Linked DNA regions of Homo sapiens. Each later gene encodes a partner of the first gene's protein in a complex. Each region holds a gene or a part of one and is shown on either strand. Other genes may lie near its edges. The genes, in order: SLC7A10 and SLC3A2.

The links.
Region 2: the proteins of SLC7A10 (region 1) and SLC3A2 are in contact, whole or in part, in a cryo-EM structure (PDB 8WNT), measured with the Homo sapiens proteins. Residues at the interface, in NP_062823.1 of Homo sapiens: Leu147, Val150, Phe151, Asn153, Cys154, Pro157, Ala160, Val163, Leu164, Met166, Ala167, Met170, Leu171, Trp174, Ser352, Val359, Glu481, Thr484, His485, Trp486, Gln488, Glu489, Leu490, Phe492, Val493, Val494, Tyr495, Gln497; in NP_002385.3 of Homo sapiens: Phe161, Thr162, Gly163, Leu164, Lys166, Leu169, Leu170, Val172, Ala173, Trp178, Arg182, Leu186, Phe189, Trp190, Trp193, Met196, Leu197, Ala200, Ile203, Ile204, Ala207, Pro208, Arg209, Cys210, Arg211, Glu212, Leu213, Arg534.

Annotation. Positions count from the first base shown.
Region 1 is NC_000019.10:33,221,840-33,230,440, forward strand, and holds the start of SLC7A10 (asc-type amino acid transporter 1), read right to left. Parts: upstream 4,012-8,601; 5' UTR 3,989-4,011; coding exon of another isoform or gene 3,865-3,988; coding exon 3,714-3,864; intron 1-3,713. UniProt on the Homo sapiens protein: Associates with SLC3A2/4F2hc to form a functional heterodimeric complex that translocates small neutral L- and D-amino acids across the plasma membrane. Preferentially mediates exchange transport, but can also operate via facilitated diffusion.
Region 2 is NC_000011.10:62,874,931-62,884,421, reverse strand, and holds the start of SLC3A2 (amino acid transporter heavy chain SLC3A2), read right to left. Parts: upstream 3,527-9,491; 5' UTR 3,404-3,526; coding exon of another isoform or gene 3,399-3,403; coding exon 2,975-3,398; intron 2,724-2,974; exon of another isoform or gene 2,530-2,723; coding exon 2,356-2,529; intron 1,515-2,355; coding exon 1,423-1,514; intron 434-1,422; exon of another isoform or gene 310-433; intron 1-309. UniProt on the Homo sapiens protein: Acts as a chaperone that facilitates biogenesis and trafficking of functional transporters heterodimers to the plasma membrane.

The DNA.
Region 1 (8,601 bases):
CTCCCACTTTGGAGGATCTGGGTGTGTTCCTTGGGTTGTGGATCCGGCAAGGGAGCTGGCCGAGGTTCCTGGGTCAGTATGAGAGGCCCTGTGAGTCCAGCCGCCGATGGGGAGGCAGACTTCCCTGGCCGTCTGTCTGTTTGTCCACCCATAGTGGAGCAGGAGCTCAGTGAAGCCTAGTTGGACAAGCTCCCAGCTTGGTCCCCAACCCTCCCCCGTCAGGGCTCTGACTCTGGCCCCAATTTGCCCAGCATCAGAACAGTATAAAGGGCACTGGGACCGGGCATGATGGCTCCCGCCTGTAACCCTAACACTCTGGGAGGCTGAGGTGGGAGGATCACTTGAGCCTAGGAATTTGAGATCAGCCTGGGCAACATGGCAAAACCCAGTCTCTACAAAAAATACAAAAATTAGCCAGGTGTGGTGGCGGGCACCTGTGGTTCCAGGTGTTTGGAAGGCTGAGGTGGGAGGATTGCTTGAGCCTGGGAGGTCGAGGCTGCAGTGAGCTATGATCATGCCACTGCACTATAGTTTGTGCTATGGAGCAAGAGTTTGTTTTAATAAAATAAAATATAAAATAAAATATAAAATAAAATAAAATAAAATAAATAAAATAAAATAAAATAAATAAAATAAAATAAAATAAAATAAAATAAAATAGGCACTGGACTGGGAACAGAGCCCAAATCTGGTTCCAAATCCTGAGCCTACCCCTTGGAGCAGTATCATTTCACTTCCAACCTTAGTTTCCACTCTGTAAAATGGGTATAAAAATTCCTACCTTGCAAGGTGGGCATGAGATTCAAATGAGATAAAGGAAGAACATGTTTTCATAAGGCAGTAAGAGGTGTTTTTCTGAACAGATATTGGATGTGATGATGTCCTGCAGAGCCCCTGCCCCAGCCAGTTCTATTTCCTCCAGCCTGGCCGATTCCCTTCCATCTGTGCTTGCAGTGGCCGGCGGGCACTGCCCTAAACACACTATACATGAGTCTCACGCCAGCCCATAGCCCACCCTTCCAGGTCTTCCCATTCTCAAAAGCCTCAATTCCCAGTCTGAGCTGGAGCAGAGGGTATACACGAGGGAGAGAGTGACAGGATCTCCTAGGAGGGTCGCTGTGGAAGTTTTGGAAATAACATGTTCAATAACAATAACAAACCAAGGTAGATTATGAAGCAGGACGTTGGCTGGGCAGGGTGGCTCACACCTGTAATCCCAGCACTTTGGGAGGCCAAGGCAGGCAGATCACTTGAGGTTAGGAGTTCGAGACCAGCCTGGCCAACATGGTGAAACTCTGTCTCTACTGAAAATACAAAAATTAGCTGGACATGGTGGTGTGTGCCTGTAATCCTAGCTACTTGGGAGGCTGACGCAGGAGAATTACTTGAACCCCGGAGGTGGAGGTTGCAATGAGCTGAGATTGTGCCACTGCACTCCAGCCTAGGGGACACAGCCAGACTCTGTCTCAGAAAAAAAAAAAAAAAAAAAGAAAGAAAAAGAAAGGAAAGGAAAGGAAGCAGGACGTCAAGTTCTTGACTTTTAGAGCTAAAATATGACACTTTGCAGACATTTTTGATTCTGACCAGGCTCCCCAGGGTATTGGTGGAGAGAGAGTGAGCCCACCTGGGGCAGAAAGGTGGGGTGGGCTGGGGAGGGGAGACCCTTAGTACATCAGGTGGGGAAGGCAGTGCAGACCCCAGCTCAGTCCTCACCTGCCCAGTCCCCACCTCCTATCACCTTCTGGTTGAGGTTGATCTCCTTGTTTTTTCCTGCCTCGTCCAGCCTCCTGCCTGCTGTAATCCTCAAAGGCTCCCCGGGCCAGGCCAAGATCAAGGCTCCCCAAGACCACCACTGAGTGCCCCGGGCTTGGGTTCTGTAGCTGAATCCAGCATCCTTGGTTAGCTAAGTGGCCCTTCACCCTGGCTCAGTGTTCAAGGTTTGGAGGCCAAGGTAGTGGACCTGGCACAGCAGGAAGGAACTGAAGGGTAGGGGAGCTGTCAGGGCAGACCTGGGCTGCATGGGAAACTTACAGAGTCTGTCCTGGAAAAGGAGGGTGATAGTGGAGTTGGCCTTCTCCACTCCCACCACCACCACCTCTACCATCACCACCACCACCACCACCACCACCACCACCACCACCACCACCACCAGGGCCCCTTTCTGGGGAGAAAGGAGCCAGGCAGCCTCCCTGTGGCCTGGGGAGGATGGGATGTGGGGAGGGGATAGAGTAGGAAGACAGGTCAAGGATGCTGGGCTTAGCTGAGGAGCCCAGGCAGAGCTGTGTCTTTCTGCACCTGCCTGGCACTGTAGCTGGTTCTAGGCATGGTCTCAATCCTATGACCCACTCATGGTGTGAGCTTCCCCTTCCCTGGAGGACAGTTCCTGGAGAGGGTGTGGGCCAAGAAAAAGCTCTAACCAGCACCCTGGCCAAATCCCTGGAACCAGCCCTTCCTTCCAGCAGACCGTCCATCAGGCAGGGGCATCCTAGGCCAAGAAGCTCCCAGGGCCAGGTCAGGACCAGGCTCTGGGAGACAGCATTCTAAGGGGAGGGGGTGAGATGGCGGAGTGACCTGGCCAGGGGCTGTGTTCAGGGGCAACTCTGGATGTGAAGAGCTGCTAATGTGGGGGTGGGAGAGGACGAGGTGAAGACCCTGGGTCTGCCCTACTGAGCCCCCAAACTTTCTCCATCTCCAGGGGTCTGAGGGTGGGAAGGCAGTGAAGACACAAGTGGCTCTCACTGGCAGGGGACCGGGAAGACTGGCTGGCGGTAAGGTGAGAACAGTCGAGGCCCCAGTCACTCACCCCCCAAACCACTTCTCCTGTCCCTCCCTGGAGGGGCTCAGAGGCACTCTGTGTAGACAAAGAAACAAGTCAGTATCCATGACTTGGGACAGAGAGTGGAAAAATACCACTGCCATTCCCATGACCTCTGAGCTCTCTGCCTGCCCAGAAACCCCTATGTGGGGGCAGGACATGGACCCATTCTCAGGTGGGGACTTTGGAGTCCAGGGCCTCCAGACCAGGCGAGTGTCCAGTGCCCACCAGGATCCCAGCTCAGGGAGCAGCTGGCCTTCTGCAGGCTGGGTCTGCCCACTGCTGCCCCCAATTGCTGGCTAACCCGCCCCCTCTCCTGGGTCCTGCTGCCAAACCCTGCAGTCATTGCCTGCTCTGAACCTCCGTCCCTTCTGCGCAGGCTGCGCTTGCTCACTCTGCTCATAGGCCCTCCTGCTTTCCAAGAATAAAGTCACTGCACTGCGTGGCACCTGGACCCTGCACACAGTAGGTACTCAGACTGACCCACAGTACAGAACTTGGGGAGCTCAGCCTGCCGCAGCCTGACCAGCCCCTACACTGGTCAAGTTCCTGCGCTAATCGCAGGACTGCAGTCATGGCCATTTCACAGATGAGGAAACTGAGGGTAACTGCCTTGCAAAAGCCCCGCAGCAAAATCGAGTCAGGAGGAAGAGTCCAGCGGTGGAGGGGACCCAAAACTCCCCCAGGTGCAGGCGGCCGGGAGGTGGGAACACGGAGCTTTGGCACCCTGGGCCAGCAGCCCCTGACCTCCCCGCGGTCATAGCGCTCTCTGAGGCCAGACTGCAGGTTCCCCAGGCAGACCCGTCCGAGCGCCCGGAGAGGGGACGCCCCTCGTTCGGAGCGGCTGCGCCCCTCATTCGGCCTCCGCCCGGCGCCCGCCCGCCTGGGTCCCGCTCACCGATGATGATGGTGCAGGCGCTCAGCAGCCCGATCTCCTTCTTGAGCGCCACCCGCTCCGAGGCGCCGGGGACGGTCCCTGGGACTGGGGAGGGCGAGGGCGCAGGCCTGGGGTTCCCGCGCCCGCTCGGCTGCTGCGTGTGGCCGGCCATGTCGCTGTCCCGCCGCGTCCCCGCTCCCTGCGCTGCCCCGTCTGTCCGGCCGGCCGCCCGTCGGTCCGTCGGTCCGTGAGCTCACGGCCCTCGCAGCCGGGACAGCGCCCACAGGCGGGCGCATGCGCTGGCTCCGGGCCCGGGACTGGGGGCCCCGGGCGGCGGGGGCCCGGGAGGGGCGGAAGGAGGGCCGGCCCACAGCCCCCTCCCCCACCTCCCTTAAAGGGAACGCCCCCTCCCCCAGTCCCGGCCTGGGAAGGAAGGAGAGGACTTGGGGCAGATCTAGGAAGGACTTCCCAGTTGGGCGAAGGAAGGGACCCTCCAGTTGCCTGAGTTACATCCATTCTTGGGGCCGGGTTGGGGAGCAGAGCTCCGAGACAAGACAATCCCTGCTCTCAGGGAGGCCGAGGGGGACGGCAAGAATAACAGCTGGCCGCGTGTGGGGATGCAGTGTGTGCTCCCTTTAGTACTCTATGCCTGCACGATGTGTGTGTGTGTGTGTGTGTGTGTGTGTGTGTGTGTGTGTGTGTAGGAGACAGCTCCCAGGGTGAGTCCATTCTACAGGTGGAAGTTGAAGCCCAGAGATCAGTAGCGATCGCCGAGCAAGTGCAGGGCTGAGACCAAACCCTTTCTCGTGCCTCCTGAGGCTCCCAGGCGGACAACCTCAGGAGGGGTGGGGGTTGAGGTCTGGAACTCCTCTGAGGGGTCTGGGTGTCCTATGCACCCTGGATCAAAGGCCTGAGGGTCGAGGTGAAGATCCCGGGGGCTCTCATCCTCATCACGGGGACCCAAGACCTGTGACGAGTCCTGGACACGGCTCGCCCACCCTACCAGGCTCTGGGCCACCTCTGGCCTGAGATCTTCACTACAGGCTCCTCGTCCCAGGTCAGAGTGAGGGCTCAGCGGACTAGAACTCGGGTCTCTGGTGCAGGTCCCGCGCGATCCAGCCCGGCTCAAGAAGGCCAGGCGACCTGGAATGCCCGGGAGACACGGAGAAGGAGGCTGTGGTCGCGGGAGAGGGTCGGGAGTGCGGGGATCCGAGGGAGGCTGCCTCCTCCCGGAAGCCGTCCGGACTGTGCAGCCGAGGCCGGCGGAAAAGATCCAGGGGGGCCGCGTCGGGGCCACCGGGGCGGCGGGCGGGGCGAGCCTGGCACTGTGCGGCCGGCGGCGGAACAGCCTTTGTTTCTTCCTGGCGGCCGCCGCGACGCGCCGTCCCCTGCATGTGGATGAGGCCTCGCCGGGCGCCCCGTCCTTCCCCCCAGTGGCGGCCTCCGGGTTTGCTGGGGCCCTGCCAGGGGTCCGACGGCTGCAGGGTGGACCGGGGTGGGACGGGGCGGGGGCGGGTCCCTGGCAGGGGCGGGTCCCTGGCAGCGGCAGGGCCTGGAGGTGGGAGCGGGGCGGGGCCGGCGTTTGCAGGCACACAGGAGCTTCGAAGTTGGGGGCGGGGACTTGGGGTAGGAGTAGGAGCGGGAGGATCCAGGGTGGACGTGCTGGTGGGACGCCGAGGGGGAGGCCACCCGGCGAAGCTGCATCCCTCTCGCTTCTGTCGTCGGAGACCGGCATTCTTGGCGCCCTCCACCTCCAGCCCCAGAGACCATTCAGAGGCCGACTCTCTTAAAGGAGCCTCGCGCAGGGTAGGGGCAGCCCTGGCTCCGGAGACCCCTGATTGTCGCGGGTGTTAGGGGCCAGAGGCCTCGACCTTCTGGTTTGACTCTCCCCAGCCCCCCAGTTGCCCTCGCAATTCTAGGGTCTGCTGGGAGAGGGTCTAGCCAGGGCTGGTGCAATCAGGGGCAGCTTGCCAAGGGGCAGGGGCTGGCGCAAGCCTCGCAGCTCTGAAGCCTGTGGTTTTCGAGGGTGTCTCTCTGGGACCTGGAATGTGGAGTATGCGTTTGTGGGGGAAAGGTCGGCCTAGGGCTTTGCACAGGATGGAGTTTGTATGTTGTCAGCCAGGCCCCATAGCTCAGGAGGTCCTTTTCGTGGAATTGAACTAGAACCTGCAAATTTCAATGGGAACAAAAGGTTAGTAGGATTGGTTTACCATCCAAAAACCAATCAGCATGATTCTCCACATTAATAGAGAGAAAAAAGGAAAACCTCAACAGATGCAAAAAACAGTCATCCGTGATGTAAACAAACAACTCTTAGCAAATAGAAACAGAAGAGAACCTCCTTAATCTGATAAAAGTATCTACCTAAAAACAAATCTCCAAGAAACCAAGAAACAAACAAAAACCCTACAGCTGACATCATGTTTAGTGGTGAAAGTGTGAATGCTTTTCTACTGAGATTGAAAATGAGAAGGGATGTTGGCACTTGTCAATATTCTATACAATAGTGTACTGGAGGTCCTAGCCAGAGCAATAAGACAAGAAAAATAAGTAAAAAGGTATGAAGATAGTAAAGGGAAAGATAAAGCTGCCATTCACATATGATGTGATTCAGTATGTAGAAAAAAAATTACAGGTTAATTTAAGGAAGATAAGTTCATTTAGCAAAGTCGCTAGACAGAAGTTTAATATACAGAAACTAATTGTATTCTATATACTAGAAATAATTAGAAAATGAAATTAATAATAGCATAAAATCAAATACCTAAAAATAATTCTAGTGAATGATGTGTACAATTTTTATGCAAGAAACTACAAAACATTTCTGAGAGAAATTGTTAAAGACATAAGCTAATGGAGGGATATACCATGTTCATGGATTGGAATTTAAAATGTTGGTCTCCACATTGATTTATAGAATTGATAAATACATCCAATGTAATTTTGATCAAAGCACCAGACAACTTTGTTGTTGATTACAAGGCTTTTTTGGAGGGATGAAACTCAACAAGCTGATTCTAAAGAGTATGTGAAGAAGAACAAATCTGGAGGACTTATACTACAGTAAGGAAGACAGTGTGGCATTGATGCAAAGATAAACAAATCTACTGGTGGAAGAAAACAGAAATCCAGAAACAGACCCATCCTGGTTTATTATGACAAAGTTGATATTGCAGAACAGTGGAGAAAGGACGGGCTTTTCAATAAGTGGTGGTGGATCTATATATTGAAGAAAAAAACCAAAACCCTTTTAATGTCACCCTTCCATTATACCCTAAAACCAGTCCCAGGTGATGTACATGTGAAATGTACGTGTGAAAGGTGAAACATCAAAGCTGCTAGAAGAAAACTCAGGGGAGAGAATAGATACATTTTCTTAAACAGACATAAGAAACACAGTAAGAAAGTGACAGATTGGACTACATTAAGATTAGAAACTTCTGTCAGTCAAAAGACATGATTAAAGAGGAAAGAGTAAGCCACATATGAGAGAAGTTATTTCCATACATATGGCCGATAAAGGACTTCTATCTAAAAATATAAGCATATGAGTTGTATTGAAAAATATGTATCAAATCAATAGGAAAAAGTTTTAAAATAGGCCGGGCATGGTGGTTCATGCCTGTAACCCCAGCACTTGGGAAGGGCAAGGCAGGTGAATCACTTGAGGTCAGGAGTTCGAGACCAGCCTGGCCAACATGGTGAAACCCTGTCTCTACTAAAAATGCAGAGATTGGCCGGGGGTGGTGGTGAGTGCCTGTGGTCCCAGCTAGTCAGGAGGCCGAGGCAGGAGAATCGCTTGAACCTGCGAGGCGGAGGTTGAAGTGAGCTGAGATCATGCCACTGCACTCTAGCCTGGGCAACAGAGCGAGACTCCATCTCAAAAAAAAAAAAAAAAAAAAAAAAAACAAAGGACTTTAAATAGGTGCTTCCCAAAAGAGGATGTCCAATGACTGTTAAACTCCTGAACAGGCACTCAAACCTCATGGGCCATCAGGGAAATGCAAATTAAAACGAGAATAAGATACCACTGAGTAGCCACCAAAATGGTGAAAATTACACACCCAATGTTGGCAAGGATGTGGAGTTGGTACCACCAGTTTGGAAAACCATTTGGCAGTACCTCCAAATCCAGCATCTCCACTCTGTATTAGATGCCTCTTGGATATCACGCCACCTCCCCAGCCCCTAGCCTCACCTTGGTGTCAAGGCTTTGCCACCTTTCCTCCCACTTCAGGTGCAGGTACAACCTGCCAGCACCCCCCATCACCCTCAGGGATTCTCTGATGCCCCTGAGGAATGAGATAATAAGGGACCAATCTGGCACCCACAAACTTGCAATCAGAAATGCAGGAGAGTTAGCACACTCGGGCCTATCCTTGTGTTACTGAATGGTGCCACACAGTTCCAGGATCTGGGCGACTTGAACAAAGAATTGGAAGAGACATATACAGATAGCAAAAAGTGTATTAAGTGCAGTATTCCACTCTTGGAGAGGAAGAGTGGACTGATCTTTGTGAGATGAGATCGGCATTAGTTTGGTGTACTTTGGGTCTTTCTATATGTTGTTTTTTTCCCCCTCTTCCCAAGGCTGCCTAATCTCTAGCCAGTGTCTATCTTTTTGATTGACAGGTGTGTTGCTTAGTTACTTTGGCCCCCGTGCGCTTGCACCTTGCCTCCATCCCATAATCCTAAGTACATACATGATATGCAGCTCATATGCATGAACCTTAAGTAGCTGATTATCATAACGGGGTTATGTTAAGGATACCTTTTCTCTCCAATGCACATGCCCATCTCTGAAGCGCAGCCCCTTACTGGTTTGGTCAGGATCCTGCCGGCCATGGGATACTGCTCGCTTTTTTTTTTTTTTTTGAGACGGAGTCTCACTCTTGTCATCCAGGCTGGA
Region 2 (9,491 bases), on another chromosome or scaffold:
TTCTCAGGAAAAGGCTCAGAAAATTCCAGCCCACACTAAACCTCACCCACCACACACTTCCCCGGGAGCTGGGGAGAGTCCTGTGCCTTGCCTGGGTCTTCCCCACCTGCACTACAAAGGCTTAGCCTTTGGACCCCTCCAGCTCTACCCTTCCACTCATTTTCTTAGTGCTACAGCATTTTACTTCTCATTCTTGCCTCTGGCAAATCACACAGCTTCAACTTTGAAAGCCACAGAAAAGGCCCCAGAGAAAAGGTATGTCCATAAACATAACTTCGTTTAACACTTAGCATTGGAATGTTAGCATACCTATTTTAGAGATGAAGAAACAGACCCAGAGAAGCAGGGAGACGCGTCCACAGTCATAATCAGTGAGCAGCAGACAGGATCTAAAATGTCAGTCAAGATCCCCCCTCTCCCAGTTTCCTGAGGCCTGGGGAAGGTGTGAGTACAATAACTGCTCAGAGCAAGGCCAAGGATGAAAGATTGAAATTCAAAGCATAGCCCCAGGGCAGTTTAGATTTGAAAAGAGGCCAGTGCTGCTGAATGGAATCCTGGCAGTCCTGCACACACTGTGGAACTTCACCCCCATTCTCCTTTTCTTCCCTTTCTCTGGGCCATGTACTCTCTCCTCTGGTCTCCATTTCCATCTGAGGGTACCGCCCCTCATGCCAAACCATCCAAAAACATTCCCTCATCAGCAACTTTTAAAGGGTCCCCTAGTAACTGGCAAGGCCTAAACTGGATGATCCCGGGGTCCTACCCAAATGCTGGGAGTCCAGAATTCTATCTTAGAATCACAGCTACCAGCAGTGTCAGTATCTGCTTCCATTTTTGTTCTACCCATTCTGAACAGGTCAGTGTCCTAGGACCCAGACATCAGGAGCTAGGTGACATTCAAAGCCCTACTCCTAGCCTGCTGGGTACACATTTGAACCTATGGCAAATTATATACCTTGTATGGTTATACAGAGAATTAGAAAACATCTATAAAATACTTGGCATAGAGTCCCAGACACATAGGAGTACCCCAGTGCTTATAATTTCAGACTGGGCTCTATTCCAAACACATCAAACAAGAACTGGGAAACCAGTCAGGACAGGATTCTCACAGAGAAAGGGCTTCCTCTCCCAAAAGAAAGAAAAATCAAACTTCCAGACTGACTTCTGAGAAGGTCCCTTCCTGGCACTGTCTCATCCTCAGAGTCAAGGAAATAAGAAAAATAAGAGGTCAGAAAAGGAACAAGAAAAACAGGTGTGCTATTGGCCTATCCTTTGGCTATAGGAGGAGGCATTCCTCCTTGGTCCTAAGGAGCAAAGGGACCCTCAGCTGGAGTCAGGCTGGGTCTACAGGGCTTGCTGTGAAAGGACTGTCCCAGCCCCAGCATCTGACTTCCACCAGCCATCAGCTCCAACACTCACCTTCACCTTGGTGGCCACAGTGTCAACCTGAGTGGAGAACCACGAGTTCTCACCCCGGTAGTTGGGAGTAAGGTCCAGAATGACACGGATGCCTAAAACAACGGAGGAAGACGCAATCATGAGACAGTCTATGAGTTAAGGGAAAATAAGGAAATCACAAATGCAAGTCACTGAGTGTTTCCTATGTATTACTTGGTACAAAAGCTTGAATTTGAACCCGGGCAAAATTCATTCCATTGAAACAGATGTGAGCAAGGAAGGGCCTTAAGATATGGGAAGGCAGGCCAGGCGAGTTCAAAACCAGACCGGTCAACATGTTGAAAATTGTCTCTACTAAAAATAAAAAAATTATCTGGGTGTGGTGGCACACGGCTGTAGTACCAGCTACTCAGGAGGCTGAGGCACGAGAATCGCTTGAACCCTGGGGGAGGAGGCTGCAGTAAGCTGAGATCGTTCCACTGCACTGCAGCCTGGGTGACAAGAGTGAGACTCCATCTCAAAAAAAAAAAAAGATATTGGAAGGCAGAAAGTTTATAGTGCAGAGAAGTGGCCCCTGTGTTCCCCACTCCCAAAGTGAACCTTTTTAAACATGTGTCTATATCGAGTCGTAAAACAATATTTGGGATTCCCCCCCCCCAAAAAAACCTACTGTTTTACAAGTTTAAAACCACTGGTTTAGTAAATATCTATATTTTGCAAATAAGGGCACTGAAGCCCAGAAGTTAAATGACCTGCTCAAGATTCCACAGCCAAGTAGAAAGCCCCCAGACGACTGGACAAATCCATTTTAGGCTGAAGACTAACAAATCTCCCCTCTACCTGCCCTAGGAAAACTCAGAGCCAGTTAGCAGGAAACCAGACAAAAGTTCTAGCCTACTTTTCCTCTGGCCAAGTCCTTTCTAGCTGTTTCCTTGGGAACCCCAGGATACCCACTCTTTTTTTTAGCCGATTGCAAGAGACTGTCAAAATCTTCCTTGGAGCCAAAATTGGGGTCGATCTGCAGCAAGTCAGTCTGAGCGACATCATCCTTCTGGTTCTTGTGAATTGGACCCAGCACAAGGCCCTTCACCTTCAGAGAGCTCAGGTAATCGAGACGCCCCTTCAGACCTGAAATGGGGGCTGGGTTAACAAGTGAGGCCCCTCTGAGAGGCCCCTGACCTCCCCACCCTCCCTTCTCCCAGCGCCTAAGGGTGGGACGGGGAGGGGGCAAAGGGGGAGAGAGGGAGGCAAGGCTGAATCACGAGACTCAGAGGAGCTGATGTAAGGAGTCCTGCACATTACTTCAGAAACCGGTTGCAACTGGCTTCTGGCGCCGCGGGGAAGGAGGACGCTGAGTCACCCACCCTCGTGACGGAGTGAGGGGCGGGTCGGCTTTCTTCAAAGAAAGGAGGGAAGGACAATGTGCCGGGGAGGGGGTGGGGGAAGGGGGAACAGTCGTCGGTACGGGATGGAGGGAAGAACCATCTAGATCCGTCTGGGGACAGGGGAGGGGGTCGGTGCAAGCCACCAGATTCAACCGGAGGTACCCGGGACGGGGGCGCGCTGCACTCACCCGCCAGGTTGCCCGCGCCGTGGCCCTGGAAGGCCTGAAGGTCGCCGATGCGGTAGAGGGCGCCCGTGTGCCACCACTTCTGCGCCGGTAGCTCGCGACAACGCGGCGCTCGCACGATTATGACCACGGCACCAGCAAGCATGCCGAGCCAGCCGAGCCAGAAGAGCAGCAGCAGTGCCCAGCGGGTGCGTACCCAGCCGGGGCTGCCTGCCACCTTCAGCAGCTCCTCCTTGGACAGGCCCGTGAACTTAGCCGCGGCTGCCGCCTCCGCCTCGTCTTCCGCCACCTTGATCTTCACCAGACCATTCTTCTCGGCTCCCGCCAGGGACATGGCCGCCCCAGACGCCGCGTTCATCGGCTGCTTCTCGGGCTCTAACTCATTCAGCTCCACCTCCTTCATATCCACCTCGGTGTCCTGGCTCATGGTGCCTGCAGAACCGGCGACACGACGCAGCTTGCGGTCAGATGGTGGCTCAACCCCTACCTGGACCCTCGGACCCAGAACGCTCTCCCCGGCCTCTGTGCCTCCGCGCAGTTTCGGCTACTGCATCTGCTCAGCAGCAGGCGCGGCCTCTGGGAAGGGGCAGCGGAGCCCCGCCCCGGCCCGCCCCTTAAGGTGGAACCTCGGGGACTGCCCCAGCCGTGGGCGGCTCAGGGTAGTAAAGTCAGGAACACGCCTCCGACAGTACTTCCTGCATGGTCCAATTTCTCATCTCCAACCTGTCTAACCCTAAAGTTCTTTTCAACCTGATTCTGGGAAGGCCTGGCACGGAGCCACCTTTAAGTGGACTAGGCCTGTGATCCTGCCCCAAATCCCGAGGCCCCTCCAGTGTCCTTTAGGCCTTACCGCCCCCAAACGCCCCTCTTCTTCCATTCCGGCAGGCTAGTGACTACCCCAACACCATCCTCCATTTGCCCCTGGTTCACGGCTCCGGCCGCCGTCTGGTTTTCCCAACTTTGCATGGCTACTTGCACTCTCAGAGGCAGCCAGTCACAACTTCTGCCTTTTCCCCCACCAAGGCTTGCCCTCTCAGGCCTCTGGGACTTGGCGCTAGACCTCTGCTAGACCTCTGCTTCCGTGCACGGCTTACTCCCACTCGTTTTTCAAGACTCATCTTGAATTCATTTCAAGAAATTCCTCATGCAGCAACTATTTATTGTGTACTCACTACAATACTTTGCTTTGTTAACTTTATTGAATTTAACACTAATCCAGCCTTCTTCACAGTACTTTAAAATGAATGGTTTGGGCAGGAAGGTTGAGGTAGACACCCCCCTTCTTATCCTACCCCACCCCCAGCTGCTAGCACCTGGATGTTTGGCAGCTAGGAATCAGACATCCAGAAGAGACTGATAGGGCTGTAATGAACATAACAGAGCTAGGTCTCAGAGGCATCCACCTTTTTTGTGGAATAGACCAGAAGATGCCATGGCCAGACTCTTACCCACCTTGCAGGAACTCCCACAGTTATCCCCAAACTCCCCCAAGGTCCTGTCTCCCTATCACTTCACTATGTTAGGCCTTGGAGGCAGCTGGTACTGCAGAGGCTTTGAAGAAGCCTAGAATTCCCTCCACAGGGTCCTTGGATTGAAGTGGGGCAGAGACAGGGTTCACAGCAGGGAACTACCGGACATCAACACCGTGGGGTGCCAACACTCTCAGGAACTCCTTGTTCCTAAACAGTGCCAGTTGGGCTACTTTCAGAGAGGAGCTGGAGGAAATCGGTTCTTTCTCCCTTTCCCACCTAGGCTGGAAGCCAAGATTGCTGTGTATTTGGAAGAAAGCAAAAGCCAAGATCTGAAGTAATAGCATAGAGAAAAGGGTCACCCTCTGCTAGTCCCCTCTGCAACCCCAGGCATCCAACCCCATCCCCACCCTAGGAACAAGGGGTGCACGGGGCAGCCCCTGGGAGAAGGCAAGCAAGTGGGTTCAGACCAGTGCTCAAAGATAATAAGAGATCCAAGGTGCCCTGCATGTGCCAGATAAGAAGTGCCAACCAGAGGTTCTGAATGGACTATATCTCGAGCACAAAAGCTCAAGGCTGGGCGCAGTGTGACTCATGCCTGTCACCTAGCCCTTTAGGAGGCCAAGGAGGGAGGATTCCTTGAGGCCAGGAGTTTAAGACCAGACGGGGCAACATAGTGAGACTCCATTTCTAAATAAATAAAAAAATAAATTTTAAAATTATCTGGGCCTGGCTGGGTGTGGTGGCTCACACCTGTAATCCCACCTACTAATCCCTGTAATCCCACTTCTCATGCTGTGGCATGAGAATCGCTTGAACCCAGGAGGTAGAGGTTGCAGTGAGCCAAGAATGGGCCACTGCACTCCAGTCTGGGTGATAGAGCAAGACTCTGCCTCAAAAAAACTAACAGGCCAGGTGTGGTGGCTGACACCTGTAATCCCAGCACTTTGGGAGGCTGAGGGTGGCGGATAACTTGAGGTCAGGAGTTCGTGACCAGCCTGGCCAACATGGTGAAACCCCATCTCTACTAAAAATACAAAAATTAACTGGACATAGTAGCACACGCCTGTAGTCCCAGACTTGGAGGGGTGAGGCATGAGAATCGCTTGAACCCGAGAGGCAGAGGTTGCAGTGAGCCAAGATTGCGCGGCTGCACTCCAGCCTGGGTGACAGAGTGAGACTCTGTCTCAAAAAAGAAAAAAAAAGGCCAGGCGTGGTGTCTCACACCTGTAATACCAGCACTTTGGGAGGCCGAGGCAGGTGGATCAAGAGGTCAGGAGACCGAGACCATCCTGGCTAACACAGTGAAACCCCGTCTCTACTAAAAATGCAAAAAAAAAAAAAAAAAATCAGCCAGGCGTGGTGGCGGGTGCCTGTAGTCCCAGCTACTTAGGAGGCTGAGGCAGGAGAATGACGTGAACCTGGGAGGCGGAGCTTGCAGTGAGCCAAAATCGCGCCACTGCACTCCAGCCTGGGATACAGAGCAAGACTCCGTCTCAAAAAAAAAAAAAATTATCATCTGTAATTGGTGATGTGCCCCTGGAGTCCCATGAGATGCCAACACTCAAGGGAAGCAAAAGCAGGAGGATCACTTGAGTCCAGGAGTTTGTGAGGCTGCAGTGAGCCATGGTGGCACCACTGCATACCAGCCTAGGAGACAGAGCGAGACCCTGTCTCTAAAAATAAGTAAGAACAAGGTTGAGAACTGTGGGGTCAGAAGCTGTCTTTGAGATGGTCCAACATGACACAGTATCTCACTCACAGATCCTCATGGCTCCAAATGGCTGAAGTCAATTCCTTTTGTTTTTTGTTTTTTTTTTTTTGAGACAGGGTCTCACACTGTCACCCAGCATGGAGTGCAGTGGCGCGATCTCAGCTCACTGCAACCTGTGCCTCTCAGGTTCAAGCGATTCTTCTTCCTGAGCCTCCCCAGTAGTTGAGATTATAGGAGGCGTGCACCGCCACACCCGGCTAATTTTGTATTTTTAGGAGAGACAGGGTTTCACCATGTTGGCCAGGCTGGTCTTGAACTCCTAACTTCAGGTGATCTGCCCGCCTCAGCCTCCCAAAGTGCTGGGATTACAGGCATGAGCCACTGTGCCCAGCCTGAAGTCAATTCCTTCTGCATGCATAAAGAGGATAACAGCTTGCCTCTCCAATCTTATCAGCCACCACCTGCTTCACAGGCACTAGCCTCCAGCCACATCAGCCTTCAAACACCTGCCAGACTCACAACACACCAGGCTTTTTCAGGCAGAGCTCTGCATCTTGTACATGCCATACCTCTGCTGTTGGCCCTTCCTGTTTGTCCACTCAACCTCATGAGTTCCTATTCATTCAAGATCTAGCTCAAGTGACAGCTTTTCTCAACTCCCCAGACAAAATTACTTTCCCTCCACCATGCATCTGCCTCTGCTACAATCATGTCCCATTTGTTTATTACATTTGTTTGTCTGGATGTCTCTTTGTCCTTGAAGACAAGTGGCAGGAGCCTTGTGCTATTGTGGACGAACCTGCCTATTCGGAGGCAGCATATAGTAGGCACTTCGCAAGTGTTTGGTAAATAAGTGGATGAACTATGTCAATCAAAACCAATATCTCCCTTCTTAGAAACAACTAAACAGGCTAGGCACGGTGGATCACACCTGTAATCAGCACTTTGGGAGACCAAGGCAGGCAGATCAATTGAGGTCAGGAGTTCAAGACCAGCCTGGCCAACATGGTGAAACGCTGTCTCTACTAAAAATACAAAAATTAGCCAGGCGTGGTGGTGGGCACCTGTAATCCCAGCTACTCCGGAGGCTGAGGTGAGAGAATCACTTGAACCCAGGAGGCAGAGGTTGCAGTGAGCCCAGATCGCACCACTGTACTGCAACCTGGACAACACAGCAAGACTATCTCTCAAAAAAAAAAAAAAAGAAAAGGAAGAAGAAAAAAGAAACAACTGAAAAAAACTAGCATGTGAAGACAAAGGCAGGAAAATGAAAAGGAATTTAAATAACGCTGTATCATATCAAGATAAACCTGTTGCTGCAGGAAAACAAACCAAGACTTGTAACTGTTCAACCAAAATAAAACAAACTGCCAGGCACTGTGGCTCACCTGTAATCCCAGCACTTCCGGAGGCCGAGGCAGTCGGATCAATTGAGGTCAGGAATTCAATATCAGCCTGGCTAACATGGTGAAACCCCGTTTCTACTAAAAATACAAAAATTAGCCAGGTATGGTGGTGCGTGCCTGTAATTTCAGCTACTCAGGAGGCTGTGGCAGACAAATCACTTGAACCCATGAGGCAGGGATTGCAGTGAGCCAAGATCGCGCCATTGCACTCCAGCCTGGGCAACAAGAGCAAAACTCTGTCTCAAAAAAATAATATAAAATATAATAATAAAACTAATAAATTAGGAGATGGAGGACAGGAAAACAAAAAGACTACAGAGAAAAGACTAGAGAAATGGACCAGAGGTGAGTAAAGAGCCTCAGATCCTGCCATATGTGTTGATATAAAGCTTAATATTTACTATAGGAACACAAAGAATATAATTTTTCAAGAATTTAGCCTTCAAGAGAAGGCTGGGCAAAGCAAAGGAAAAAAAGCAGTTTGGCAGCCCAGATGCCAATAAGGTCCACTTTACACTCAGACAGACAGATGGCGGTGGAGCCCTGAAATGCAGGGGGCCAAGTATATAAAGAAAGTTCCTTTCTAACCCTCTGCTGCAAAAATCCATGTCACATGCTTCCTAACACATGAGGATTATTACTTGATCTTAGCCTGAAAACAGGACATTTATTTTTCCTCAAACATGTAAAAAGGATTGACCAGGCACAGCAGCTCATGCCTTTAATCCCAGCGCTCTGGGAAGCTAAGGCAGGAGGATCACTTAAGCCCAGTAGTTTGAGACCAGCCTCGGCAACATAGGGAGACCCCATCTCTACAAAAATTAACAAATTAGCCAGGCATGGTGGCTCACCCCTGTGGTCCCAGTTACTAAGGAGGCTGAAGTGGGAGGATCACTTGAGCCCTCAGGTTGAGGCAGCAGTGAGCTGTGATCACAATCACACCATTGCATTCCAGCCTGGCTGACAGGGTGACCCTATCTGAAAACAAACAAACAGGCTGGGCGCAGTGGCTCATGCCTGCAATCCCAGCACTTTGAGAGGCTGAGGCGGGCGGATCACCTGAGGTCAGGAGTTTGAGACCAGCCTGGCCAACGTGGTGAAACCCCATCTCTACTAAAAATACAAAAATGAGCTGGGCATGGTGGTGGCTGCCTGTAATCCCAGCTACTCAGGAGGCTGAGGCAGGAGAATCGCTTGAACCTGGGAGGCAGAGGTTGCAATGGGCCCAGATCGTGCCATTGCACTTCAGCCTGGGCAACAAGAGCAAAACTCCATCTCGAAAAATAAACAAACAACTAAAAACATCTAAGAAGGACTTTTTTTTTTGAGATGAAGTCTCGCTCTGTCGCCCAGGCTGGAGTACAGTGGTGCGATCTCAGCTCACTACAAGCTCTGCCTTCCAAGGTTCACACTATTCTCCTGCGGACTCCAGGTGCCCACCACCACGCCCAGCTAATTTTGATTTTTTTGTGTATTTTTAGTAGAGACGGGGTTTCACCATGTTAGCCAGGATGGTCTTGATCTCCTGATCTCGTGATCCACTCGCCTCGGCCTCCCAAAGTGCTGGGATTACAGGCGTGAGCCACCGTGCCCGGCCACATCTAAGAAGGATTTCTAAAGGCAGAGAGAAGATGGGAGGACAGCTAGAAACTCTTCAGGAGACTGTCTCTGTCCAACAGCCTCCATAAATCTTCGAAAGCCCAAGACTCTATTCCAAAGACCCAGAAACAAAACATCAAAGCTGCCTCTAAAATACCAATCAGCCAGAAATCTTGAAGATTTTAGCCATTTGAAAAATGAGGCCAGTGTGGTGGCTCATGCCTGTAATCCCAGCATTTTGGAAGAATGAGGCGGGCAGATCATTTGAAGTCAGGAATTCGAGACCAGCTTGGCCAACATGGCAAATCCCCATCTCTACTAAAAATACAAAA